Homo sapiens: one gene and its partners. The protein of the gene in region 1 binds, or shares a complex with, the protein of each later gene. Each region holds a gene or a part of one and is shown in the gene's direction. Other genes may lie near its edges.

Region 1 (5,386 bases):
CTACGTCTAAACTGCAGAAGTTTACAAGGTGAGTTTTGTACCCATAACCCCAGCCCCTCCTGATCTACTGGATGAATGGATGTCCCATTCTACCCCTCAGTTTGTGCCTGGTCGCCTCCTCAGATCTGCAAGCTGCTCCACCCACTGAGGACAAATAGAAACAGGTCCCCTGGGAGTGCTGAGTCACGGGGCTCCCTTCAGCCCTGTTCCAGCAGCAGAAGGCCGGGCGATTTTACCCTGTGCCCTGTGAAAAATCTTTGTGTCTGAGGGAGCAGAGGAAAAACTCTTGTCAGATGGGAAAAATGCTCATGACATAATGTGACATTAAAAGGTGGGAAACAAGAGGATATAGCAGTATGAGTCAGACACCTTGGAACAGTAATCATGATAAATGCCTTTACATGTGGGAGTCTCTGGCCGGAGCTGACATTTGCGCAGAGGCTTAGTGTGGAGGGAAGAGCCGGGGAAGAACATCAGGCACAGGGAACAGTGCCTGCCAGGCTGAGGAGAGCGTGAGCTTAGCATGCTAGAGAAGCCAGGACGGTGGTGTGGCCAGGACGGCAGTGTGGCCAGTAAGTGGTAAGCCAGGCAGAATGAGGGAGACATCAGGGAGGCAGGCAGGGGCCAGGACACAAGGGCCTGCAGGGAGGGCCCAGGGGATGCCTGGATGCAGCCCCAGCATGAAGGCCTCTTACCCCTGCTCACATCCAAGTGGGAGCTTAGAGGGCCAGCTGGGCCCTGGCCTTCTGACTCGAGGACCATTAGCGCAGTTGGGCAGCAAGCCTCTGCCGCCCACCGGCAGATTAGTGAGGCACAAGTGGAACATGGAGGACTCCCTGGGTTCCAGGGCAGCAGCCGGCAAGCAGCCCCTGCGAGCCTGGCCAGTACTGGGCGTGAGACCAGGCCAGAGCCCTGCTGGGTGGAGGGACAGCATCGCGCCCAGGGCCGAGAATGCTTCACTGAGCTCTGAGAGCCGTGGAGGGGAGGAAGGGCAGGGTCTCCGCTGGCCTCAGCCTGAGAATTTGTGTGCCTACTGCCCCTAGGAGTCCTTCTGGGAGGCCACCCTGTAGCAAAGGACTTCTTTCCCAGATGACCTGGGCCAGTATCACCTGGAGGTGACAATCCCCATGCCACAGGCTGTCAGGGAGGCAGCGAGGCAGTGCCCATCAGTGGGTTGGGAAAGCCTAAGAGACTGGGGACCCACACAGCCATCCAGGCTGGGTTATTCACCCTGTTCCACCGCCCACAGCTCCAAGGAGGACTTTGGGCCTCCAGGGGACAGCTCGCTGAGGAAAGGGTTTCACAGCCCCTGTGGAGGGGCTCGCAACTGGGCAAGGCAGTATGTGCTTGGATTACAAAAACTGGAGAAAGTTCTGATTAGTGAAGGCAGTTTGATTGGCAGAATCTTCCCAGATATGGAGGCTCCTTGCTCAGGCTGACACCTCGGTCATCCCCACCCCTCTCCCAGCCTCTCCCCACATCCTCCAGCGCTGGCCTAGGGCCTGCCCCAAACACTCTTGGCCACTGTATTCGTTTCCCACGGTGGCTGCTGCAACAAAACACACAAATGTGATAGCTGAAAACAGCAGAAATGTATGCTGAAGGCCAGAGTTCAAAATCCAGGTCACTGGGCCCAGAAAAGGCACCACAGGGCTGTGCTCCCTCCCAAGGCTCTAGGGGAGACTCTGTTTATTGCCCTTTCAGTTTCTGGTGGCCCCAGCCTTCCTTGGCTTGTGGCCTCATCACTCGAGTCCTGGCCTTTAGGGTCCACCTGGATAGTCGCCTCAAGATCCTTAGCCTAATCATATCTGTGCAAAGTGCACGTGACCCTGTTTCTCAATAAGGTCACGTGCACGGTTTCCCAGGACTAGGATCTGCTATCTTTGAGGGGCCGTCATTCAGCCTGCTGCCACCCCTCCAGTCTAGTCTTCACATAGCAAGAAAAACGGTGTTCCTAAAACACAACTGGGGCTGCACCCCTCCCCTGCTAGAACCTGTCTCTGTCAGAATGAACTTCAACCAGAATGCTGCCAGGCCGGTGGTCGGGCCCTGCCTACCTCATGGCCTCTGCCCACTTGCTTCCCATCTACCTCAGTTCCTGCAGTCTGAGGGGTCCTTCCTTGCCTCAGGTCCTTGCCTGGAATGCTCTCCCAGAACAGCCTGTCTTGTCTCCCCAACCCCAGCCAGCTAAGCAGACCACCCGGGTGGACCCCAGGAAAGAAATTCAGTGGGAACGGGAGCTCCATGTGAGCTCCGGGATGGGATCTGCTGGGCACAGTGGGGATGCTCCCAGGCCCCAGTCCTCATACATAGCCTCTTGTGAGGTGGGTGCTGTGAGAGTCTTGCTCTCCCAAAGGAGAAACTGAGGCGCAGGGGTTGTGGCTGCCCATCCCTTCCCCTTGGGGAGCGCCTGCTGGCTTTCACTCTCTGGCTCCCTCCTTGGGGTTGGGGGCTGGTGGGCAGTGCTCCCTGGCTGTGGTCTCCACAGGCCAACTCTGCGGCAGCTGAGAGCCCCTCCCTGGCCTGGGCCCCTCTGCAGCCGCCCCAGGTGAGCGCTGGTGCCCACCTCAGAGACGGAGAGGCCGCGGGGAGGGCGGTGCGTGGGCTTTTGGGTCGGCATGGTTGCCAGCGACCCTCGGGGCCGGGTGTGTCCGTGGGGGGACCTTGGGAGCTGTGGTACAGAGGAGGCGCGGCCGCGAGTCCCGGCGGGGCGAAGCCCGCGGCTGCTGGACCCACCCGGCCGGGAATAGTGCTCCTGGTTGTTTCCGGCTCGCGTGGGTGTGTCGGCGGCGGGGCCTGACACCCCCGGCCTCCTGGCCTCCCGCCTGGCCCAACTGGGGTCTGGGGCTGGGGAGGGCGCATGCTCAGCCTGGTGGCTGTGTGCCGCCCCTGGCAGGGCCTGCGGTGGGTGCCAAGATGGGAAGTGACATGTCCTGGACCCCACACTAGTGGGAGGTAAGGCTGAGGAGCCGTTCTGGCCCTTCTGCCCACCCCACAGACTCTCTGGGGTGGGACCCCCTTCCAGGGAGGCTGGAGGGTCACACTGTCCCCTCCCCTCCCCCACCTCAGCTGCTGTCACTTTTCTGGGATTTCTGGGGGTTCAGGTAGCACCCCCACCCCAGAATCTTCCTGAGCTCTCATTCCCAGTGAACCAAACCCATGGAAGCCAGAGATGGAAAAGCCTAACCGGCCAGCGGAGGCAGCGTGGCTGCAGAGCACATGAGGCCTGGCTAGGCTGTGTGACCTCGGCAAGGGACACCCCACGCTGGAGCCCAGCCACTGGGAAGGCTCTGCTTAGGGCCTGACTCCTGGTGGGGGTGGGGTGCGGTTGGAACAAGAGTGCTGGTTTCTGAACCGAGGAGAGCCCACATCCAGTGTCGTCCAAGACCAGGAATGCCCAGGTGGGGCCCTGCTCACCTGTGTTCTTCTGTGTTCCCAGCTGGTTCATGGGGCGGCGGCCCGAGTACACAGACCCCAAGGTGGTGGCTCAGGGTGAAGGCCGGGAAGGTAAAGCTCCCTCCCCTCTCTTACCCCCATCCCCCATACAGGTTACAGCCTGGGAGTGGGTGGGCCCAGGGTTGGGGTGAATGCCGGGGACCTGCCAGGCACATAGGAGCTAGCCCACAAATGTTCCCAGATGAGGGCCTGGTTGGAGCACAGAGGGTTTGTCATGTCTGCCTGTCCCGGCAGCCCCTTTACCTCCCAGTGAGGGGCTTGGGTCAGGCACTGTTGTCCCCATTTTACAGATGAGAACGCTGAGGCTGAGATTCCCAGATCAACCTGGGTCTCTCTCTGCCCCAGCCCAGCCTGGCTGATGCTGCCCTTCTGTCCCCAGTGACCCGTGTCCGTTCTCAGGGCTTTGTCACCCTCCTCTTCAACGTGGTGACCAAGGACATGAGGAAACTGGGCTATGACACTGGGCCTTCTGATACACAGGGTGTGTTGGGGCCCAGCCCACCCCAGAGCTTCCCCCAGTGAAGGCTCCACAGGCTGCACAGTCTCTGATAATGAAGGGCTGCCTTCCCGAAGTCAGCCGCTGCCCATCGGCCTGAGGGGCAGCCTGGTGGCCAGAGCTGGGGGCACACAGAATAGTTTTGTATAATAAAGTCTCATTTTCAGAGAGCCTAGGCCTGGGGCTGCCTTCTCTCCTGTTTAGCCCCTCCCCCACAGGAGCTGGGGGCTCTTGGGCCTTTCCTGGCCCCACCTCCAGGGCTCTCCCTGTCCCTACCCCTTGTGCCGTGGAAGCTGCCAGGAGACCAGACCGTGCAGCAGGATGGCATGTGGGATGGGAGCTTTGACATAACCAGGTTCTGCCACTCAAAGCTGTGTGGCCTTTTCTATACCGCAACACATTGTTCCTTGAACTAACTGGGCATGGCACCCTCCTTAGAGGCTTGGGGTTAAGTAGAATCACCCGTTCAGCCATGCTTCTGGCCACCAGCCTCCCTTGGCAAGGACAGAACCCTGTTATTGGGAGCTGGAATGGTGAGGTACCCCGGGGGATGGCAGACCCTCAGCCTGCCCACTCCCCTCTCTGCCCCCCTACCCACAGTCCAAGGATGGGGGCTGGAAACCTCTCAGAGGTGGGAGGCCGCTGGCTGGGGTCCAGCTTTCTGGCAGCCCCTTGGCAGGAGAGGAAGGTGAGCCCCCTGGCTCAACACCCTGACCTCTGAGGTTGTCCAGGCCCTTCTGGAAGCAGAGCCCCTTCAGCATTACTTTGGGAGGCCCTGACCCTGGGCCTCCCCACCTTCACAAGAACCCCTCGCACCTCACGAGGCAGCCCCAGGCCCTCTCTGCCCTGCCACTGAGCTTTCGGCAGACATGGTGCCCCAGCCTAGATACTGCCCTCAGCGGGATCCAAGAGAAACCACAGGCTCCTGGCAAACCCCCACCTCCCAGCCTCGCCCATGTTGCCCTGGACTGTCGTCATGGCACTTGCCCTGAGACCATCTGGGCCGACCCTCTTCTGCCTTTTATCTCACGAGCACTCCCGTGCCCTCCCCCCAACTCACTGTGCGTTCTGAAACTCATCGTCTGTTGTCAGCAAAATTCCTGTGATTCCATCTTCTCGGAATAGGAAGTTCCCTCTGCCTTCTGGCCTTACTGAAGCCCACTCAGTACCCTGCAGCCCTCTTAAGTGGAATCTTTTTCCTCCCACTCCCCATGTGCGGTGAGCCTAGAGCAGGGGTGTGTCCTTGCCTCTTCCTCAACCTCCTCACTTGGAACAGTCTGTCTTCACCTCTACCCCTCACAGCCAGGCAGGCATATCTCTTGTTACTGGTGAAGGCACTGCCTCCAAAGTCTGGATTGAGGCATCCCTCCCTCAGGCCAGGCCCTCCCTCATGTGGCGCTTCCCTGTGCTCTTCAAACCACCAGGCCCTCCAAG
Region 2 (9,337 bases), on another chromosome or scaffold:
ACTCTGTCTCCAAAAAAAAAAAATTAGAGATGATTTCTGTACTGTATTTGCTGTGTTATCATTACATAATATTAGTATTTATTAGTTTAGTTGTGTATTAAGCTGTTAATAGTAAATAAGTATATGATTTATATATTTTATTTGTAATTATTTACTTATTTTTAATACAATAATAATGGACATAAAGTAATTTTATTGCAATGTACTGATTACTTTGCTTTTTGGTATTTTCTCTTCTCCTTACAGTACTAAAATAGGTGCCATTTTAAATTCCCAGACAAGGAAAAACCAAGGATTAGAAATTAAGTAGCTTGCCCAAGGCCACACATCAGTAAGTGGTGACACTAGAGCTCAAGCCTGAGTCTTTTTTACTCGCTTTGCTTTTGCTTCTCTTCACTTCGCTTCTCTCTTCTTCTCCTCTCTTTTCTTTCATAGTGGCAGATACATAACTATAAGAGAGCATTGGCTTGGTCCTCCAAAGCTAGCAGTTTGGTGGGAGTTACAGAACATTTTACCAGGGTGAAAATTCAAGGTTGAGGTAGAGGGAGCTACAAAGATTAAGGCACCCTGGAAGCACAGAAGAGAAGTTCTTAAATGCCCTTCAAGGTGAGAATGCTCTCTAGAGAAGATATCATTTGCCTTTAAAGGATAGTGAGGAGTTTGTTAGAGAGACAAAGGAGGAAGCACATTTTTCAGGGGAGGGGATATGTGTGTAATGATACAAAAGCAAGAGAGAACTTGGCACACGTGAAGGCCTGCAGGTAGTTTCACATGTCTGGAACACAGTGGATGTGTGAAGGGGACATTTCATAAATGGCCTTGGACCTCACTGGTAAGGACTTGATATTTTTTTCAATGTGCGATTGGGAGCTAGTGAAGAATTTTAAGCGAAGAAACGACACCATCACATTTGAATTTTAGAAAATTACACTAGTTGCTGTGTAGATGATGATTTTTTTTTTAAGGGAAAGGTGATAGCGGCGTGGAAACAATCTTAAAACAAAAAGCATAATCCTTCCACAGTGTTTTTGTCCCTCAGAGTTACTGTCTCATGTCACTGCCTTTGGGGGTGATGGGAAGACAGTTGGAAGAATTCTGTAAAGAATTGTCTACATGTCCCTTCTACAGGTGTCACCTTCCATTCATTCCTTAGCCCCAGCCTGCTAAGTTTCTGCCCCTCTATAAACAGCTTTGACACACGTGACTTCCTACTTGCAGATTCAGTGGACTTTCTTCAAAACCTCCAGCCCCTTTTGATGCCACACAGTATATAGGCAACATCTCCTTTAAAACTTGGGTTTGCTTCTGTAATGCTTCTATCTCCCAGTTTTTCACCTATCTCCCTGATTTTACTTTATATTGTAGGCTCACAGGATTCTCATTGGCTTTTTATTTTCTTGGAACTATCATATTTATAAATAACTCCCAAATCTTCAGCCTATTGTCTCCCTGCTGGATTAGTAGATTGCCTAACAAACATAATATGATTATATACGTAAACACACACACACGTGACAGTAATAACAGTTGTTGTTTTTGAAGGGCTTGCCATGTGCTAGGCATTGTGCCTAGTATTTTATTTGCATATTCTCATTTAATCTTTATAAAAACACTGTGAGTGATTTACTCTTATTATTGTGAAAGATTAGGAAGTTGATATCCATAGAGGTGAATCTGCTGGCAGATAGAACTGGTATTTGGATCCAAGGATCTGAAAATGGAGCTGATGCTTGTAGCTGCTCAGTGCCCTTCAGATACCCAACTCAACATGACCCATACTAAGCTCAGTGACTGCACCCTAACAACCTGTTACAGTTATAGCTAACATTTATTGTTGCTTCTTCTGTCTACGGTACTGTTCTAAATCATTTAACCCTTACAACAACCCTTTGAGTCGGCACTGGTAGGGTGTTTTTATAGATGAGGAAACAAAAGTCACGCAAGTGACTATGGAAACTAATTCTAGGACATGGATTTTAAACTACTGCCCTGTACTGCATTATATTACAGTGTAATGATACTACTAATCTACTTATTCTAGTTCTAGAAACATGGGAATTATCTCCGATTCTTTCTCCTGCCTCTTCATTAGTTATTTAATCTTTCTAAAATATTACCTCACTCCATCACCTGGAGCGCACTGGTGCAGTCTTGGCTCCCTGCAACCTCCACATTTCAGGTTCAAGCGATTTTCCTGCCTCAGCCTCCCCAGTAGCTGGGATTACAGGCACCCACCACCACGCCTGACTAAGTTTTGTATTTTTGGTAGAGATGGGGTTTTACCATGTTGGCCAGACAGGACACAAACTCCTGACCTCAAGTGATCCACCCGCCTTATCCTTCCCAAGTATTGGGATTACAGACATGAGCCACGGCGCCCAGCAGGCTTTTTTTTGATGAATCATAGTCATAATATAGGTCAGCTTTTTCCTGGCCTATTAGATGACCATCGAGTAGTATAAATATTAAATTTTTATTTGTTTTATGATTTTTCTACTTCCGTGCTCTCAGGTTTCAATTACTCATGCTGTCATTGCACTTGCCTTTGCAGCTTCTCTTTTCTAATTTAATATAGACTAGAAAGTAGAAGACTAGATTTATTAAATTTATAACTGCTAGAAGGAGTAAATACAGGCTCCTATCACTAAAGTATAGGAATTTTTACTCCATGGATTTAGTGATGTCTGTTTTGACTGGGTGCCACGTAGTTGTTGCCTAAGTTAACTGACATAGTTAGGTATGTTTACATAATCATTCCTTTCTTTTTAGAATTTCTTAGACATTTCTGCAAGAGGAACATGAATGTGGATGTCCAGGGAATTGGAGCATTAACCAATAATGCCTTGGGCCCAGTGTGGTGGCTCACGCCTGTAATCCCAACACTTTGGGAGGCTGAGTCGGGCAGATCATATGAGGTCAGGAGTTCAAGACCAGCCTGGCCAACATGATGAAACCCTGTCTCTACTAAAAATACAAAAATTAGCTGGGTGTGGTGGCGCACACCTGTAATCCCAGCCACTCGGGAGGCTGAGGCAGGAGAATCGCTTGAACCTGGGAGGCGGAGGTTGCAGTGAGCCGAGATCACACCACTGCACTCGACAAAGGGAGACTCCATCTCAAAAACAAACAAATCAATAATTCCTGAACCAGCTTTTTTTTTAACACTCTTCAGTTTTAGTCTCAAAAACATGCATATTACATTCTAAATGTTCTAATGTGAGAATATGTTCATTTTAGACATACACCGATTTTTTTAATAAAATGGGCAATTTAGTAATATACATACTGAGTTGAACCATGGTTTTGAGTAGTTCTGACACAGTAATACACATCCAGGTTTTATTAAAGAAAGATGGTGCAAATATTTGTACTATCCTTCTCTATTGTAGCAGAATTTTCAGTGGCAGACACAGAGGTATTTAAATTCACTGTGAGTGTGCTACCCACAAGCATGCTTTAATGTAATATTGAATGCTCTTAGGAAAGTCAATCCTGAGATGGAGTTTGGTTTCTTAAAAGTGCGTTGAAATGTTCATTAATGTATTAAAACACTTTAAAAAGTTTATTAACATACCACATTAGATGTGCACTGCCTTCAAAATGTTTTTTTTGTTTCAAATATATAAATACTTTATTCAGATATGATCTAGTTTGTTTCCCTTGATTTTAGAGCCCTAAACTGATTCAAATGTACCCAAGTCATTTGCATAAGATTGGGTTAAGGGAACATAGCTTTATTGGTATAAACTTAATGAAGTAGTGGACATACAATGGCATGATCTTGTGTGAAGAACGTTTTATAATTTTTATTTGGAAGTTCCATATTACAAATACATCTCCTTTGTTTCGATAGGATCCTGATTGAGTCAATGCTTTGCATTCTCAGTCCTCTGCATAAAGCTGAGAGATGCCTACAGGTAAGACTTCTATGAAATTTATGTATAAAATTTATATTTTATACATTTACTTTTAAGTTTGGTTTATTTTAAGGGATTCTTGAACAGATTAATGAATACAGTAGATGTCATTGACCAAATATACTACATTTAGAGATACTTATTGGTTTTGTATTCAGTTTTCTATTTAATATTGTGATTAAGGTTAGTATGTATTTAATGGATGGTAGTTTGGGACTCAGATGGACAAGGTAAATAATGATTACAACATAGGGTTAGTTTTTATTCTTTATCATCAAAATTGAATGTTTTACTCCACCACAAGCATTGGCAATCTTTTCTAAAAGGGCTAGCTAGTAAATATTTTAGGCTTAGTCTCTGCTATAACTGCTCAACTCTGTCTCTCTGTCTCTTTTAAAGCATGAAAGCAGTTATAACAATTCTTAATCAAATGGGTATGTCTGATTTCAATAAATCTTTACAAAAACAAGTGACTAGCCTGCAGGCCATAGTTTGCCGACACTTGCTCTAGAGCACCCATTCATTCAGCATTTATTAATTTAAAACATAATGACTATGTACACTATGTCAGACCTCATAATAGTAGCTGGGGATGTAGTTATGGGGGAAACAGAAAATATGTTTCTTTATATAGATATAAAAATAATTATATAATTTCCATTTGGGTTGAGTGCTGTGAAGGAAGAGAACAACCTGCTATGTGAGAAAAGGGAAAATTAGATGAGTTTGTCAGGAGGTGTTTTATTTACAGGCAGCATTTAAACAGACAGGTTAACACCAGCCAGGTGAGGAATTAGAGGAAGCTTGCCTCAGAAACAGCTTCATGTGGGAAGGAGCTTGCTGTGACGGAGGAGCTAAAGGAAGGGTATTATAGCTAGAACATAGGCATCTAAGGGGATATTTGTCTTGATTTGAAGCCCTGGAGATAGATCAGGAGGTATGGAGCCCTGTAGGGCATATAAAAGACTTATTTTATCCTAAATGTATTGGGAAATTTTCAGGGGCTTAAGCATTATCTTCTTCATGTTTTAAAGGAAAAACCTGTTAATATTTGTGGAATACTGATTACAGGCTAGGCACACCTTAGCCATTTTTCATGCAAAATGATCTTTGGCATAAGATAATTGTGATTTTACAGATAAGGAAAATGAAGTTTAGAGATCTTGAGTAACTTGTCTAAAGCCACATAACACGTAACTAACAGTGGTAGATGCTACTGTTTATCAGAAATAAAAAGTTAACTTAGCAAAGGAGACTTTTAGAGTGAGTGGCCAAAAAGGTCAGAGGGATACAGGTGAATGTTGTGTCACTAAAGTCAAAATAAAAAATATTTTAAGAAGGAAAGATAGGTGAGTTTTTCTAATGTAGCTAGAGAACTCATGCCGATATTTACAAGAACTTATTTCTTAACATCCTAGTAGTGTAGGTTGTGTGTTATGATAGAGTCATTTACAAAATCACATGGCTGTATCTTTTGTAGCTGAGAGTGAAGCAAAAGTAAAAACCAAAGTTCGCTTTGAAGAATTGCTTAAGACCCACAGTGATCTAATGCGTGAAAAGAAAAAACTGAAGAAAAAACTTGTCAGGTCTGAAGAAAACATCTCAGTAAGTAAATGATCATTGGGTAATAGTGATTTACATATGCGCATAAAATGCAGATATGGCTGCATTTTATGTTAAAATTCTAAGGAATTTTGAAAATTAAAAACAGTAACACTATGTCATGGTCAATAACATGTGGTAAAAATAAAGTTTATATTAGAATCAACATCACTGTGAGAATATTGACTTCATTCTTGAGTGCTGTCCTACAGGAAGAACACACACACAGTGGGGAAAATGACCAGAGATAGTGGGGAAACTCAAAACTAGCCATGATAACATTTTTGAAGAAAATATTTTTAACCCAGAATTGTGAAGAACTTAGGAAGTAGTATCTTAACTTCAGATATTGAATAGCTTGTGCTTATTTAAACTATTTCTGTGTGATTCTACCCAACAGAACCAGGAGAAATCAATGGCCGTATGGTAATAATTATCCTTTTATGTTTGAGGCACACTTTCAAATGATAGAATCTTTGGCAGCACACTTGAAGGAATTAAAAATACAGTGCTCAAAGACTAAGCAAATCAGCAACTAACTACAACCTGATCCCCTTGGAATCATAAAGAGTCTGTATTGGCATCCACAGTTAATGCTCTATGCCCTCTTTATACCTATCTCCCTACTTGAGTTGCACTTTTTACTACTTTGACCATTATCTCTTCTGTCCTCACAGAAAAAAATAAACAGGCTCTTGTGTAAATGGTACATAGTTTTTTTTTTTTTTTTGGCAGGAGTTTTATAATGAGTTATAATCCTACATTTTGCTTGTAGTAAGATTTACCCCATTTTTTCTTAAGACCTGTTCATTTTAGTATTCTGTCTGGCAGATGTCAATGTAACAATATAAATTCTGAAGTGAGGCAAAAACAAGTAGTAAAATTGACCAAAATCCAGCTGCACATATGTGAGGGTTCATAGTGTATACACTGGTGTACGACTGCACAAAAATTTCGAACTACTGACAGAATGGACAGATTAGCACTCCCATAGTGATTGCTGCTCTGAAATAGCATGTGCTTTTTCTGGTGGTACTAGTGCACAATATGGTAGGGAATAGTGACATGGAGGATGAAACATTGCTTATTGATATATGCGCTCCCCTCAGATGGAGTGGTTTATGTTGGGCAAAAGCAAAAAGAACCCTGGAAACAGTTGTCTGCAGAGATGTTTTATGCTCAGAGAAGAACCTCATATTGTCTCTTAGTATTAAAGAACTGGGAGTTGTGAGCCATGAACAAAATGCAATTTAGACCAAGGTTTAAATTAAATGGATAATCAGAATAGGCAGAGGCTATGTCCATTTACCTAAGGTCCAGTTTAAATGTTGAGGGGCACATAAGTGTGAGGTGACTAAGCATAATTTATCCAGCCTCTCTTTGCAAACACCAGGACTGAATAGGCTTCTTTTCTTTCAGAAATAAGTACACTAGGAACAAATATTTGGGAAGATATTTCGCAGCTCAAAAGAACAGGAATATTTCTAAAGGACTTAGAGGAGAACAAAATATTTTTGACATGATTAACTTGAGGAAGTAAAAGAGGAATAGCTGCTTTCATTTGCTAGATGCCTTAATGCTTTCTATCTTTAGGCACTCTTCTAAACACTTTATATATATTTAGTCGTTTAATACAAACGACGAAATTACAGGGTTTTATTTCTGTACAGGAGAAAACTACATCAGAAGTTAAGTAACTTGCTGAAAGTTACATAGTAAATGGTAGAACCAGGATTCAAACACTGAGTGGAAGTGCAGAATCCACTGCCTTAACCACAACCCAATATTATCTATTTTAATGAAATTTGAAAAGATAGGACTTCTTCTTGAAAGAAGAACAGGGAGTCCTATGTACAGAACAGGCTGAGATGAGAAATGGAGCAGTCTGAAATAAAATTAAGCGAGGAAAAAAGTCAAAATAGGGATTCATAATAATGGCAGGTTCATCTTATATTCCAGTTATATATAAGGCACAATAATAAGAGTTTTACAAATATTATTTCTAAATCTCATGTTAATCATGCAAGATAGATATTGGGATTCTTTTTTTGCACATGAGAAATTTTATAAACAGACAAACAGACATGTTAGGTGATTTCCTTAGGTCATTTAGTCTAAAATAGGATAAGTGGGATTTAAGACCACAGTCTCTGCAATTTTAAAGTTCATGTTCTTCAGTTGCTTCCTTAAAACTATATCTCAGGCCTAAAATGATGGAATTGACACTACGGAAAAATCTAATCAGTGAAGTGGGAGACAAATTCGAGGTGGGAAGAAATGACCAAAACTAAAATGAAAGAAATAAATGATGAGGACATAGAAAGATATTTGACCCACAAATAAGTATCCCGGGACAGTACTAGTGGAGCAGAAACAATAATGAGCATGATGAAGAAACCTTGCTGAGATTTCTGAAGAGATGAGTCATCCTGCATTCCAGGCAAAATTTATGAGATGAGAACTATATCTAGAAAATTCTTTTGTTTGTATCTTAAGAGTCAAATATTGCAGACACCTAAACACAAAAACATATAGTACATTTGAGACTTCTCTGTAAAAACACTAAATCCAAAAGACAATGGAGAAATATTTAGAGCACTAAGAGAAAAATTGTAGCCTGAGGAATCTGGTCACCTAAGTTGTCAGTCATTTGTGATGGTAGTTGTAAACATATGTGCATTATTAGAGAAATATCAGTGTTCCCTCCCTGGAAAAAAAAAAAGATTTAAGATTTATTAAAGATGTAGTACCATTTCTAGATATGAATCAAAGTTAAGAATTTAAGAATAGAACATCTTAAGATCTTAGAGGAAGGGATGAAGAGAAGTTGGTTAAGGAGTACAAAAATATAGTTAGAAGGAATAAGTTCTAGTAGTCAGTATTACAGTAGGGAAATTACAGTTAATAATTTATTGTATATTTCAAAATAGCCAGAAGAGAAGATTTATGTTCCCAACATAAAAGATAAATGCTTGGAGTAATGGGTATCTCAGATGCTCTGATTTGATTATTATACACTGTATATGGTGTCAGAATATCACATGTACCCCCAAAATATGTACAACTATTATGTATCAGTTAAAAATTTTTTTGATGGGAAATTTATGATCCAAAAATACCATTGGATGAACTTTGAAATCAGTTAAATATGTAGAACTTTCTTAATTATTATATATGTCCAGAATAATTCCTGAAGATTTTACATTAGATATATGTATATGATAATGTGAGAGAACAGAACCAAATTGTTTTCAAAGATTGAGCAAAGCATCCTAGCTTAGGAAGAAAAAGTCACGTAACCATTACTCTTGTCCCTAGCGTATAGTTAAAAGTTATTATTTCATCCTAGAGTTTGAAATAAATAAAACAAGTATATATATAAAATAGATTATTACACTTTCTAAGTTGTCAGAGTTAAAAAAATTAAGTGAGTTTTTTTAAAAGAATGTAATGAAATAAGAAATTTAAGTAAGAGCAAACTGAGTCATGACAATAAATGTAAATAGTTTAAGCTTCCTATTTTAAAAAGTGGGTTCAAAAATAGACTTTTAAAATATCAGGACCAGGCATGGTAGCTCATGCCTGTAATCCCAAGACTCTGGAAATCCAAGGTGGGAGAATTGCTTGAGTGCAGGAGTTCAAGACTAGCCTGGGCAACATAATAAGATCCTGTCTCTCAAAAAATAAAAACTTACCTGGGCATGGTGGCATGCGCCTGTAGTCCTAGCTACTTGGGAGGCTGAGGTGGGAGGATTGCTTGAGCCTGGGAAGTCGAGGCTGCAGTGAGCCATAATCATGCCACTGCATTCCAACCGGAG
Region 3 (7,065 bases), on another chromosome or scaffold:
TCAAGCGATTCTCCTGCCTCAGCCTCCCAGGTGCTGGGATTACAGGCGTGTGCCACCACACCTGGGTAATTTTTGTATTTTTAGTAGAGGCGGGGTTTCACCATGTTGGTCAGGCTGGTCTTGAACCCCTGACCTCATGTGATCCACCCGCCTCAGCCTCCCAAAGTGCTGGGATTACAGGCATGAGTCACCGTGTCTGGCCCTATTATTTTTAATAATACAATCATCACCTTCTTTCTTCCTTCTTCCTGCTTTTTTCTTCCTTTCTCCTTTGTTCCTTCTCCTGCAGTCTTCCTTCCTCTTCCTCCTATCTTCCTCTTCTTTCTAAGTATGTTCTTCCATTTCTCTATCTGCTTTTTTTTGGAGATGGAGTCTCGCTCTGTTGTCTAGGCTGGAGTGCAGTGGCACAATCTCGGCTCACTGCAACCTCCGCCTCCCAGGTTCAAGCAGTTCTCCTGCCTCAGCTACCCAAGTAGCTGGGATTACAGGCACCTGCCACCACACCTGGCTAATTTTTGTATTTTTAGTAGAGATGGAGTTTCACCATATTGGCCAGGCTGGCCTCGAACTCCTGACCTCAAGAGATCTGCCCACCTCGGCCTCCCAAAGTGCTGGGATTACAGGTGTGAGCCACTGTGCCCGATCTCACTACCTTCGTCTTCATCAAGAGATGATGAGACTATGAGCTAAGGCAGTAGCAGTGGGGCTAGAGAAGAAGAAAGGATTGCCAGAAATGTTAAGAGAAAAGAGTAGTCAAAAATTATCCAGACTTCTGGCTGTGTGACTAAGTGGGTGGTGGTGCTTTTCAATAACAGAGGCAATACAGAGGGAGGATCAGGTTTTGAGGGAAAGAGGATGAATTTAGTTTTCAGTATGTTGCATCTTGAGGTACTTCAGGACATCTAGGAAGAGGTATCCAGTAGGCATTAAATATAAGGGACCAGGTTGTAGGAGAAAGTAGAAGCACACAATAAATTGAGGAGTTGCTATCATATGAAGTCATTGCTGGAGCAATGTTAGTAGAAAATCACCAAGAGAGAGCATGTAAAACAGGTTTTTTAAGATTATATATGCAAGTGTAATGTGCATATTTTGTAAGGATATAACTTATAGATCAGTGAATTTTCACAAACTGAATATACCCCTGTAACTAGTACCCTTTCAAGAGAGAACATTACCAGCACTCCACATGCCCTCTTGTATAAAGCAGATGTTCCTAACTGGGTGTCCATGGGCTGCTTCAGTGGTTCTCTGGATTTCCCTGAAATTGTTTAATTGTTTGCAAGAGTTGTATATGTATACTTTTTTTTTTTTTTTTTTTTTTGAGACGTAGTATTGCTCTGTTGCCCAGGCTGGAGTGCAGTGGCACGATCTCGGCTCACTGCAAGCTCCGCCTCCCAGGTTCATGCTATTCTCCTGCCTCAGCCTCCTGAGTAGCTGGGACTACAGGCGCCCGCCACCATGCGTGGCTAATTTTTTGTATTTTTAGTGGAGACGGGGTTTCACCGTGTTAGCCAGGATAGTCTTGATCGCCTGACCTCGTGATCTGCCCGCCTCGGCCTCCCAAGTTTATGTATACTTTTTTTTTTTTTTTCCTAATGGAAAGATCTATAGCTTTCATCGGGCTTTTTTTTGTTTTTTTTTAGTGACAGGTTCTTGCTCTGTTGCCCAGGCTAGAGTGCAGTGGTGCAATCATATTAATAGCTCGCTATAACCTCAAACTCCTTGGTTCATGCAGTCCTCCCATCTCAGCTTCCCAAATAGCTAAGACTACAGGTGTGCACCAGCAGACCCACCAGACCTAGCTTTTCTTTCTTTCTTTTTTTTTTTTTTTGTAGAGATGGAGTCTGACTATGTTGCCTAGGCTGGTCTTGAACTCCTGGCCTCAAGCAGTCCTCCTGCCTCAGCCTCCCAAAGTGCTGGAATTACAGGCATGAGCCACTGTGCCCGGCCTCATCATAATCTTTTTAAAAGGGTGTTCACATCCCAATAAGGATGAAACTCGCTGGTGGAGTGAGAAGAGGTCTTAGAGCAAAACCTCAGCGGGACTATTTGAGATAAATTCTTGAACTCTTGAACACTATGTACTTACTCTATGCCTTGCTGGTTTTTTCTCTGATTTACTGTATCTTAGGGAATGTTTGTAAGACTAATTTAGCTTTTAGTTGTATAAAGAAATAGAGAAAGGCTATTTATTAAATGGTCTTTGAAACTTACACTACTAGCAATTACCAACCATTGGTCCTAATGTTAAAACTGCTTTTTAGAAGTTTTTATGAGTTTTTAACTAACCTCTTTTAGATGAACAAATCTTAAAATGTTTGTTTATTTTTGTGTAAGCCATGAAGTATTGTATACAGTATGTTTCTAATGTGCTGTTTTTAAACATCCAGATTTTGTCACCAGAAGTTTATCACAGACTTGTTCCTTTTTTAAATTTCTAATTTATATTTTCTAAATTTTTTTAATAGATGAAGGTTATTCTTTCAGCAGTGTCCTGTATTATGGAAATGAAGCTACTCTTCTTATTTTTGATCTGCTGTTCTTCTGTGTTGTGGATTTGGCTTGCCAAAATTTTATTTTAGCATCCTTCCTTACATATCTACAACAAGAGGTAAACTTTTAAAATTTTTCTACATTTTCCTTCATTTTCTTGAGAGAAATATGTTAGAAGTAGATATTTTCATAGCAGAGAGTAACAATGTCTACTTTTACTACAATTTTGTAAAGGTTTAGAATATGACTAACCCCACCAAAAGAAGGAATAACATTTCAACCAACTGTACTCTGTCCTTTAGGGTCAATGAAATACTGGGGTCTAGTGGAGGGCATAAGTTGCTTGATTATACATGGAAGAGGAATCCTATAGGAAGACACTTAACTGCTAGTCTCCTAGATGCTACAAGTGAACAGTAATTAGAGTCCCATCCACCCTCTCCAGACGTTAAGTAACAAAAAAACAAGCACTGGAGAGCTAGCTCAGGGCTCAGCACCAAAGCTTGCAGCTTTGACACCTCCCCCACCTGTGTGGATAAAAAGCAACTTCATGTATGAGTGTGGACCCTGAAATAGAGATTTCAAGAATTGGCAAATCTGTTCTTGAAATGGTGTTATTATCAACTAAATATTCTCCACTATGTCAAAGAAGTATATATAAGTAAGATGCAATTTATTAGTCCTTGACAGTGATCTAGAATTGTGAAGAAATTCTATCTCTAGTGAGTAGATTCTTTTGATGTTTCCGTAGTTTTAGACTTAGAAGAAAGTTGCCTTTCTATATATTTTAAAGTGTATTTCTGTGAACATGAGAGAATTTGTATTATTAATTCATAAGAATTTACTCTAAATGGGAACATACTATGAAACTATGAAAGAAATTATCATCTTGAAATAATTTTATGTATCACTATGGGATTCAGATACCTGATACATGAAAATAGTTGAGAGAATTAGCTAATTTAATCTAGATATTTTAATCGACGTGCATATTTAATTCTGTTTATATTTCTTTTCATTCTGAATTGTTTTAATTTTCCAGATTTTTAGATATATCCGTAATACAGTAGGACAAAAGAATTTGGCATCCAAAACATTGGTGGATCAAAGATTTTTGATTTAACTTCCTGAATAAATAACTTAAAGACTCAGTATAATCATGGCCAAAAAAAAGTCATGATATCAGGTTAGTTTGCCATATTTTTTAAAACTTATAATGCAGACTATTCTGTTTTTGTTTTTTATTTGCAGAAAGATTTATTTTTATAACTTGGGAATATATAACCTGATATAATAGAAAATACTGTTTTCCCATTGTGTGTAGTATTTAATGCAGTAAATAATAAATTAATACTGACAGTGAGGCCAAAAAAAATCTAAATGTTGCTTTCAGCATAATACTTTTTAATGCTAATTAAAACAGTCCCCATCATTTGTCTCTGTAGATTATTTTATAAACTGAGAGCTGCCTGAATCTTCTCACATTGACAAAGTAATTTGATTCCAAGTTTAAGACTAGTTTTCAGTTTGATATTTTCATGTTTTGTGTGCTTATGGTTAAATAAATGTTGAAAGATATTTTCAAGTTTACTTAGAAATTTTAAATTGTATTATTGCTGATTCAATTTGCATCATTCTAATTGCTCATCCTCTTTGGCAGTGGATTAATTCACTGTTGGGTTAATATGCATCTCATGAAATGATATCTTTTCATTCCTTTGTATACCTGTATTAGGTCAGTATACGCTTTCCATGAAATATATTTGCATTTCTAATATAGTTTACATTTATTAAGTTATAACGTATGACATTTTTCCCAATATCATTTTTTATACATTTTAATTACTTAATGTTTTAAGAGTTCTCTTCCAGAGTTTTGCTTTTCAATTACGTTTAAAGACTGTAAATAACAAACAGTAAGGCTGGGCGCTGTGGCTTACGCCTGTAATCCCAGCACTTTGGAAGGCCAAGGCACGTGGATCACTTTAGGTCAGGAGTTCAAGAACAGCCTGGCCAACATGGAAAACCCCATCTCTACAAAAAATACAAAAATTAGTTGGATGTGGTGGCCTGTAATCCCAGCTATTTGGGAGGCTGAGGCATGAGAATAGCTTGAAACCAGGAGGTGGAGGCTGTAGTGAGCCAGATAGCACCACTGCACTCCAGCCAGGATGACAGAGCAAGACCCTGTCTCAGAAAAAACAAAAACAAAACACTGTAAATGTATCATGTTTCTCACTGCTTTCTATGTTAATGCTGTGTAAATACTTAAAATGGAATACTGTATAAATATTATTTATATTTTCTCAGATGAAAATATATACTAAAACATTTGGTATTTCTGTTTTCTGTTTCATTAATGTATATCTGATGGAGTACCATTTAGGAATATAACATTATTGGGGCAGAGGTCCCAGCCATTGCCAAAGTTGAATCTTTTACATTTCCCTGAATCTTGAGGATGACTGAAAAGGAAGTCTTTGAAACTGCAGTTTCTGAAGGATCACAGTACAGGAATGCCTTTATAAAAGCTGCAGAGATAAATACATGTACTTATATGGCATGGATATTTAAAACCACTCACTCAGAAGCATATGAAAGAAATTCAACCATCATTCAACATAGAAGAAGTTAATTTTAGTGCAAAAGTTTTTAAGTATTAAATTTCACAATAAAGGATCAATTGGCTTACTTGCTGATAAATTAAAACAGAAAACATTTAAAATCATTCTAAATTTTGTATGATATTTTTATTTTGGCTAGGTGCATAAAAATGTGTTCAGATTTTCATACACTGTCGACTCCTTTGTTCACATTGTCACAATTTACATTTCCTGATCATGTGCATAATTATTCACTAGATTCATTACCCTTTGTCTATTTCTGTAGTACCCAATCACTATACTTTGACTCTTATATCCCTGATTTTACTGATTTTCTAGAAACATTTGATTTCTCTTCATTTCATAATGAAACAAAACCTAGAGAGGTTCTTTATAAGCTGTTGTGTACTTTGGATGCTCCTTAGAAACATACAGGCCCCTAAAATACTTCTGTAGACCAGTGCCTCTGTTATGGGAGATTTGTAAATGCTTCCTTCTCTGGCATTGCTGTCCTAACTGCCTTTTCAGAAGGCTTTGCTGATGACCTACATTGAGGAACATTCAAAATGATCATTAACTCAGCACTTACAAGCATGAAGCATGTGTTTTTTTTGTAAATATTGACAAATATAAGCTGAGGGGAAATAACTGTAAGTCAAGGAGCAGTGAGGAGTGTGGCTTAATGGAAAGTGCTCCAAATTTAGCAAAAGAAGCCCTGGATTCAAATTAGAATTTTGCCCATCACTCATAAGCTTTGGTATCTTGAACTAAGTCATTTGCCATCATTGAGCTTCATTCTACATCTCTGCAATGAAAATAATATCCTTTGCTTACCACTTGTTGTAAGGATTAGTTTCGTGGGTGTGTGTGTGTGAGACAGAGAGAGAGAGATGGGGTCTCACTCTTATCACCCAGGTTGGAATGCAGTGGCACGATTTTGGCCCACTCTAACCTCTGCCTCCTAGGCTCAAGCAGTCCTCCACCTCAGCCTCCCAAGTAGCTGGAACAACAGGTGTGCACCACCATGCCCAGCTAATTTTTTGTATTTTTTTTGTAGAGACAAGGGTTCACCATGTTGCCCAGGCTAGTCTTGAACTCCTGATCGAGAGATTCACCCACCTCGGCCTCCAAAAGTGCTGGGATTACAGGTGTCAGCCACTACACATGGCCAGGATTAGTTTCTTAGAATGTGCTTTTAACATTGAGTAAACTATGAATGCTGGAATTTTTATTTTTAGTTTAAAATATCTGCCCCAAAATATATTTTTTTCTTGCTAATAAATTAATAATATGATATTAAAACTCAGATTACTGATCTCAATAACTGACCAATGAAAATTCTGAGCCTGCCTTCTTCCTCAGCCACCCCCAGCTCTGCCAGGAAGAGGCCCAGATAGAGGTCACCGATAGATGTAAAACATAAAAGAAGACAACACCCCTGTGGGAGACACAGTTTGTGATAGAGGGTGGAGAGAACAGGAAGAGTGGAGTATTGTCTCTGGGAGGGAGGGTTTTTTTCATTTGCTCATTCATTCCAACAATGTTTCTACCTCTTCCCACTCCCCAGCCCCTCAGAAGGGTCTTATAATTTGTAAGAGAAAGAGGTAAATTAACCAGTAATTACAGCAATATGAAACGTGCTGCAGTACCGGGGTGTGATATAAGGAAAGCTCTTAACTGTACTTCTGGGTCATCAGGGCTTTGACCTCAGAGAAGTGGATTTGATCTAAGATTTTAAGATAAACAAAAAAAAACAAGTGCAACCAAAGCATGGAACAGTATGTGCTCAGAGACAAAGCAGCACATGGCAGTTTGGGGCACTACGGGCAGTTTGAATCAGAGTACATGTACTGTTTATATTTTAAAAGTTGTCTGTATAAGATGTTTTGTCATTTTAAGAAACCTTCCCTTCTGGGGAGTGATTGTCCCTCCTGGGGCTCCCCAGTTCTTTTAGACAGCAAAGAAC
Region 4 (7,344 bases), on another chromosome or scaffold:
CCCAAACTCCTGGGTTAAAATGATCTGCCCACCTTGACTTCCCAGAATGCTGGGATTACAGGTATGAGCCACCATGCTGGGCCATTGTTACATTTTTAATCAAAAGATATACCAACCAGAGGCTGTTATTCTTGTTAGTTGGAACCTGATTAGAAAGCTCTTTAATTTGAAATATTGTTCAGTAATCCAGTACAGCATTTAAATGCCTATAGATGAATTATGCTGCTGATCAAAATTAGGACACTGAGAATTGTAGTTAGTAAATCTTTAATAACAATATTTTCTCTTGTATTTATATGTAACTTTTTACATATTCTTACGTTATATATGTTGGGAATTATAAAAACATACACATTGTCCTGATCAGTATTATGTTACTTGCAATGGAGGTTAAAAAAAAACTGTAACAGTCAGGCATGGTGGCTCACGCCTGTAATCCCAGCACTCTGGGAGGCCGAGGCAGGCGGATCACGAGGTCAGGAGTTCGAGACCAGCCTGACCAATATGGTGAAACCCCGTCCCTACTAAAAATACAAAAGTTAGCCAGGCGTGGTGGCATGTGCCTGTAATCCCAGCTACCCAGGAGGCTGAGGCAGGAGAATTGCTTGAACCCGGGAGGTGGAGGTTGCAGTGAGCCAAAATCACGCCATTGCACTCCAGCTTGGGTGACAGAGTGAAACTCTGTCTCAAAAAAAAAAAAAAAAAACACCAGTAACATACCCACTGTTATTCAGTTACATTTGGATTTTAAGTTTGTTTGATTCTAGGTTTTTTCTTTTACAGTTCTTTGGTAATTATTTGTATTAAAGCAAAGTTACATTTTTGTAGATCTCATGTGCCACTGTGTTAAAACTTTGCTTAGTAAATTGTGAATTTTAAATCTGTGATAACTTTCACTGGAAAAATTTGAAACTTACTACAAATATATATTTTTTTTAATATCAGGCACAGTCTGATGAAAAGTCGCTCATTGCCAAGTTGCACCAACATAATGTCTCTCTTCAACTGAGTGAGGCTACTGCTCTTGGTAAGTTGGAGTCAATTACATCTAAACTGCAGAAGATGGAGGCCTACAACTTGCGCTTAGAGCAGAAACTTGATGAAAAAGAACAGGCTCTCTATTATGCTCGTTTGGAGGGAAGAAACAGAGCAAAACATCTGCGCCAAACAATTCAGTCTCTACGACGACAGTTTAGTGGAGCTTTACCCTTGGCACAACAGGAAAAGTTCTCCAAAACAATGATTCAACTACAAAATGACAAACTTAAGATAATGCAAGAAATGAAAAATTCTCAACAAGAACATAGAAATATGGAGAACAAAACATTGGAGATGGAATTAAAATTAAAGGGCCTGGAAGAGTTAATAAGCACTTTAAAGGATACCAAAGGAGCCCAAAAGGTAAACATTTAAACTTGATTTTTTTTTTTAAGAGACAGTATCTTGATCTGTTTCCCAGGCTGGAGTTCAGTGGTGCAAACATAGCTGGAACTCCTGGGCTCAAGGGACTCTCTAGCCTCAGCCTCCTGAGTAGTTGTAGCTGGCAGTACAGGTGCACACCACCATACCTACCTAATTTTTTAAAATTTTTAAATTTTTTTGTAGAGACAAGGTCTCACTTTGTCACCCAGGCTGGCCTTGAACTCCTGGCTTCAAGTAATCCTCCTGCTTTGGTCTCTCAAAAGTGCTGAGATTACAGGCATGAGCCACTGTGCCCAGCCAATTTTAAATTCATTATCTTCAAAAGAGTTACATGATAATTTCTTAATATATGCCTATATGAAAAATGCTTAAGATACAAATTCCAATTATGATTCATTAATTTAGATTTTATAACTTAGCAGTGTTGGCTATTTGAATGTCTATTATACGTAAAAATAAAATTAGGCTTTTCTAACCAAAGATTTTAGTGGGAATGTTCAGATTGTATAATAGCAAAGAATTTTAATTACTATAGGAAAATTTATATTAATTAAACACTAATTATTATATTTAAACATTGTAGTAGTTATCAGTTGATTTCTACTGTTCATAATTATCTTTGATCTACAAGTAGTGGGCCCACATTTACTTTTAATATGGTTTAATCTTCATTTAGAAAGAATTAAATGAAAAATAATTATCTTGCAACTACATCCTGTTCTCTAGGCTAGAAACATTTAGGATTTCTGTTTTTGAAAGTAATACCAAAGTTCCAATGACCTGCTTATAGTCAGTGTTCAATAAACGTATAACAAATGAAAGTGAATATTAGTGATGTCCATTCCAACATAATTTGAAGATTTTTATTGTAAAATCCCACATATTTGTAGAAAAGTCTATGGAAATCCTAAATAAGATTTTGTCATGTAGTTTGACAAAAGATAACATTGTGTCTTATTTTATTTTAGAATGGCCATTACTTTCAATTAAAATCATTATCATCAATGGAGGAATGTTATTTGTTAATATAGCATTTATATTTGTGTATATAAATTGTAAATCTTAGGTAATCAACTGGCATATGAAAATAGAAGAACTTCGTCTTCAAGAACTTAAACTAAATCGGGAATTAGTCAAGGATAAAGAAGAAATAAAATATTTGAATAACATAATTTCTGAATATGAACGTACAATCAGCAGTCTTGAAGAAGAAATTGTGCAACAGAACAAGGTTTTATTTTATATTTATTTCATTTTTTTCCCTAAGTTTTTTTTTTTTTTTTTTTTTTTTGAGATGGAGTCTCACTCTGTCGCCCAGACTGGAGTGCAGTGGCGTGATCTCGGCTCACTGCAAGCTCTGCCTCCCGGGTTCATGCCATTCTCCTGCCTCAGCCTCCCAAGTAGCTGGGACTACAGGCACCCGCCACCGTGCCTGGCTAATTTTTTGTATTTTTAGTAGAGACGGGGTTTCACCATATTAGCCAGGATGGTCTTGATCTCCTGACCTCATGATCCGCCCGCCTCGGCCTCCCAAAGTGCTGGGATTACAGGCGTGAGCCCCTAAGATTTTAAACAAGAATATTGCACAAATGACTATGTTATCCTTCTAATTAAGTGCACCTTCCATTACTAATTGATTATATAATAATTTGTTTTTTATTTTCTAAACTATTCTAAAAATTCATATTTATTTAGCTTTTATAACAGTAGTCTTAATCTTAAAAACGGCAATACATAAGCAACCTCATTTGGTAAGTTAATTTTTATTTTGATATTGGTTATTTGACTTTTCACAGTTCCACGTTTCTACTGGCTCTCACTGATAGAGTAAGAAGTCAGCTTCTTATAGAATAAAGTATATACTTCAGAGACAGATGAAATTCGTCAAACATATGACTGTCTCAGAGATTGTTCCCCCTGCTTAAATTGTTCTTACCCTAGATACCTTTGGTATTTACACTGTCAGTGCCTGCAGGTCTTAGCTCAAATGTCTTACCTTATCAGTGTATCCTTCACCAGCCACCTAATATACAACAGTAAATCCTACTATCCAGATTCCTAAATAGAGATTAATTAACTTAATTTTTCTCCAAAGTGCTTGTAACCTTCTGACGTATTACATACTTACTGGTTTATTATTGACTGTCTTTCCTTCGCCAGAATGCAAGTTCCGTGGTGACACGGACTTGGTTTTGTTTACTGCCATGTTTGTATTTCCTAGAATGATGCTTGGCACATAATATATGTCATCAAATATCTTTCGTATAGCTGAACGGATGGATGGATGGATGGATGGATGGATGGATAGACTGAAATCCTTACTTCACATCTGCCTTTGTGATCTTACACAAGTTACTTCACCTCTCTGAGTTTGTATTTTTTTCCATAAAAGGAAAATAATTACAGTTTCTTCAATGTGTTGTGAGGATTAGATAAGAAAATATATATAAAATGCCTGTTATGTGCCTGATGTCTTCGTGTATGTGTCTGACACAAATTGTCCTTTTTTTAGTTTCATGAAGAAAGACAAATGGCCTGGGATCAAAGAGAAGTTGACCTGGAACGCCAACTAGACATTTTTGACCGTCAGCAAAATGAAATACTAAATGCGGCACAAAAGGTATGAATGATTAATCTTGTTTGTTACTCTGTAGCATAGTCTAGAGTGTTAACTCACAGAAATATTTCCTGTATCAGATGTAATTTTAATTGATGTTATATTGTATATTTAAAATATAAGAGGGGTTTAATCTATGTTTTATCATACAGCTGTAAAAATTAATAGTTACTCTCAATGCTGCAACTGCTTTTTTAAAAAACATACTATTTCTTAATAGTTTGAAGAAGCTACAGGATCAATCCCTGACCCTAGTTTGCCCCTTCCAAATCAACTTGAGATCGCTCTAAGGAAAATTAAGGAGAACATTCGAATAATTCTAGAAACACGGGCAACTTGCAAATCACTAGAAGAGGTAATTAGAAGAATTTGCATTTTGATTAGTGTATTATTTGGTATGTTTGGGGGGCTTTCTAAATAATATTTCTTTATGAGGGCAATGCATAGAATGATGAATCTATTGCTAATTTCACTATTTTTCTATTCTCCTATAATGTTTCTAATAGCCAATAATGAACAGCAGATATAGTTAATTTGAATTCACTATTTAATTATTAGTTGGTACCTTTCGGTACACTGAATATGAAAGGAAATAAAAAGCATTTAATTGTAGTTCTATGAGCAATATATTCTCTTATATGATCTCTTTATTCTTACTTTTTTGGTTTTATTTTGAAGTGCATGTTACATAATCTATGAATCAATTTTCAGTTCATTGCCTTTAATGCATGGTTAAAGGGTTGAAGGTAAATTAGAAATTACTTTCTGTTTTAACCTAGATCTTGAATTTGATTAGTAGGTGATCAAATCTGTCATCTTCATTAAATTATTCAGAAAATAATGTAAACTGAATGTGTTTTCATTTTAGTTTTCATCTAAATAAACTGCAAATACATTTAAAATATACATAAAGAAGTTTTTCAAGTAAAACTGTACATTTTTAATCATTTCAGGAAACGTAGATTTTCTTCAGTAATTTTAAGATTTGTCATTTATGTGAATTGCCATTGAATTACTTAATTTAAAATACTCACCTTAATCCTCTTGAAGAGTAAAAATTTTTCTGTTTTTTTCTCTTTGTTTTAATAAGCTGCGGATTTTATATTCGTAATTTATTGAGTTGGGCCTCTAAAATTCCAGTTTTGTACTTAACTGACTTATAGATTAGTCTCCTAATGCTCTGCTAGTCAATGGACCAAAATAAAAGAAATAATTTATTACATATTCTTCCTAAATCTAGTACCACCATACATGTATAATTCTAAACTGTAATATCTCAATAAAGTACCTTAATTAAATTTTATGTTCATCATAACAATGAAGTTTCTAGCATATGTAATAGTCTTATAAATAAGCATGCAAATAACTGCTGTCAATTAGAATTAGTCAGTTTAACCTTATTAAGTATCAAATGGCTATTGTACATATGATGTGAAAAATAAAGTGAATTTTTTTTGGCTAATAACTAATCTAAAATTCAGATGAAGCATTTTAAAGGGAAAAAGATACTTTAATGATTTATTATAATTTAATCATTGCAGAAACTAAAAGAGAAAGAATCTGCTTTAAGGTTAGCAGAACAAAATATACTGTCAAGAGACAAAGTAATCAATGAACTGAGGCTTCGATTGCCTGCCACTGCAGAAAGAGAAAAGCTCATAGCTGAGCTAGGCAGAAAAGAGATGGAACCAAAATCTCACCACACATTGAAAATTGCTCATCAAACCATTGCAAACATGCAAGCAAGGTTAAATCAAAAAGAAGAAGTATTAAAGAAGTATCAACGTCTTCTAGAAAAAGCCAGAGAGGTATTTTATTATATTATGAGTTATGCTGTTATCCATTAGTTTTTTTAAGCAAATGCTAAATATTATTTTACCCTAAAGTGGTATTTCTTTTCTTGCTTTCAAATGATTCTATTTAAGAATTGTTACTTGCATGTGATTGGATTACACCTCTGTCAGTAAAACTGGAAGTTTGTGTACATGTATCTTTCTATTATACACTGACTAAACCACGAGTAGCTATCATGGTGAAATCATATGATTTTGAAAAATATTTTAATTGAGTTTATAGGTGAGGATTGAGGCAATAGGGTGGAATGAAATATATCACACCGGTAATCAGTAGAAATCAGATTTGTTAGAACTTCGTGGGGGAAAGCTAACATTTAATTTTTTCTAGAAGTAAGTTAAAAGATGATAGATACATGTCATTCTAATGTTAAGAATAAATTATGAACTGAGGCTGGGCTTGTCAACTTGAACATTGTCTGAGGGGACATGCATACCAGTCTAGATACATACATATATGGAGATACTGTTTCTTCCTCATCTCAAAGGAATTTTAGAAGATTGAAGAGAAAATATATAAGGTCTTCAAAATGTGAATTTGTTTTAATCACAATTTAAGATATAGTTTCGATTTTCTGTAAAACAGGAGCAAAGAGAAATTGTGAAGAAACATGAGGAAGACCTTCATATTCTTCATCACAGATTAGAACTACAGGCTGATAGTTCACTAAATAAATTCAAACAAACGGCTTGGGTAAGATTCTAAGAACTTTGTTCCATTCTTTATTGATTTTTGTGACCATGTAAATTAAAATTCAGCTCTCTTCTTTTTTGGAATGGAAGTTACCCTTTTTGTTGCCAAAATAATCTTCTGAAAACATAGCTCTGATCATTCTTCCTCCTGTAGCTCACCGCTGTTCACAAAATTATATTTATAATTCTTAGCCATGTACTCAATCTGCTATGAACCTACCTGCCTTTCTTTTCAAATTCTACTCACTGTGAGTTTAGCTATATCTAACTTCCAGAATTCAGCTCATATTTGCCTCTTTTGACCATTCTGTTCCATATGTATGAAATGACATGTCTTTCATCTTTTAATGTGTAACCTTAGCATATTTGAGCATTACCTCGTTAATTCGGTCAACACTTATTGATCTCCTGCTACGTGCAGACATTTTGCTAGCTATTGTAAATACAAATAATAAAGTCTGCATTTCCTGTCTTCTTTAAGCCTTCATTGCCTATTAAATCATTACATTTTAGATTAGATATTATATTTTGATCATTTGAGGAACCAAATTAAAAATATGGAATAAGTATGGCATTGAATTATACATGCCTATTGCTAATATATTCATATTTTATAGGATTTAATGAAACAGTCTCCCACTCCAGTTCCTACCAACAAGCATTTTATTCGTCTGGCTGAGATGGAACAGACAGTAGCAGAACAAGATGACTCTCTTTCCTCACTCTTGGTCAAACTAAAGAAAGTATCACAAGATTTGG

Evidence for each region.
Region 2: B9D1 (region 1) and AHI1 share a complex: the UniProt entries of both Homo sapiens proteins name them as parts of the tectonic-like complex.
Region 3: B9D1 (region 1) and TMEM67 share a complex: the UniProt entries of both Homo sapiens proteins name them as parts of the tectonic-like complex.
Region 4: B9D1 (region 1) and CEP290 share a complex: the UniProt entries of both Homo sapiens proteins name them as parts of the tectonic-like complex.

The regions. Positions count from the first base shown.
Region 1 is NC_000017.11:19,341,911-19,347,296, reverse strand, and holds the end of B9D1 (B9 domain-containing protein 1), read left to right. Parts: coding exon 1-28; intron 29-100; coding exon of another isoform or gene 101-158; exon of another isoform or gene 159-347; intron 348-2,722; exon of another isoform or gene 2,723-2,791; intron 2,792-3,439; coding exon 3,440-3,507; coding exon of another isoform or gene 3,508-3,835; coding exon 3,836-3,978; 3' UTR 3,979-4,122; downstream 4,123-5,386. UniProt on the Homo sapiens protein: Component of the tectonic-like complex, a complex localized at the transition zone of primary cilia and acting as a barrier that prevents diffusion of transmembrane proteins between the cilia and plasma membranes.
Region 2 is NC_000006.12:135,486,808-135,496,144, reverse strand, and holds part of AHI1 (jouberin), read left to right. Parts: intron 1-246; 5' UTR 247-331; intron 332-435; exon of another isoform or gene 436-606; intron 607-3,853; 5' UTR 3,854-3,907; coding exon 3,908-3,917; intron 3,918-5,397; coding exon 5,398-5,522; intron 5,523-9,337. UniProt on the Homo sapiens protein: Involved in vesicle trafficking and required for ciliogenesis, formation of primary non-motile cilium, and recruitment of RAB8A to the basal body of primary cilium.
Region 3 is NC_000008.11:93,812,834-93,819,898, forward strand, and holds the end of TMEM67 (meckelin isoform 1 precursor), read left to right. Parts: intron 1-2,471; coding exon 2,472-2,614; intron 2,615-3,538; coding exon 3,539-3,619; 3' UTR 3,620-5,288; downstream 5,289-7,065. UniProt on the Homo sapiens protein: Required for ciliary structure and function. Part of the tectonic-like complex which is required for tissue-specific ciliogenesis and may regulate ciliary membrane composition.
Region 4 is NC_000012.12:88,083,089-88,090,432, reverse strand, and holds part of CEP290 (centrosomal protein of 290 kDa), read left to right. Parts: intron 1-945; coding exon 946-1,401; intron 1,402-2,488; coding exon 2,489-2,653; intron 2,654-3,934; coding exon 3,935-4,042; intron 4,043-4,259; coding exon 4,260-4,394; intron 4,395-5,580; coding exon 5,581-5,847; intron 5,848-6,478; coding exon 6,479-6,586; intron 6,587-7,202; coding exon 7,203-7,344. UniProt on the Homo sapiens protein: Involved in early and late steps in cilia formation. Its association with CCP110 is required for inhibition of primary cilia formation by CCP110.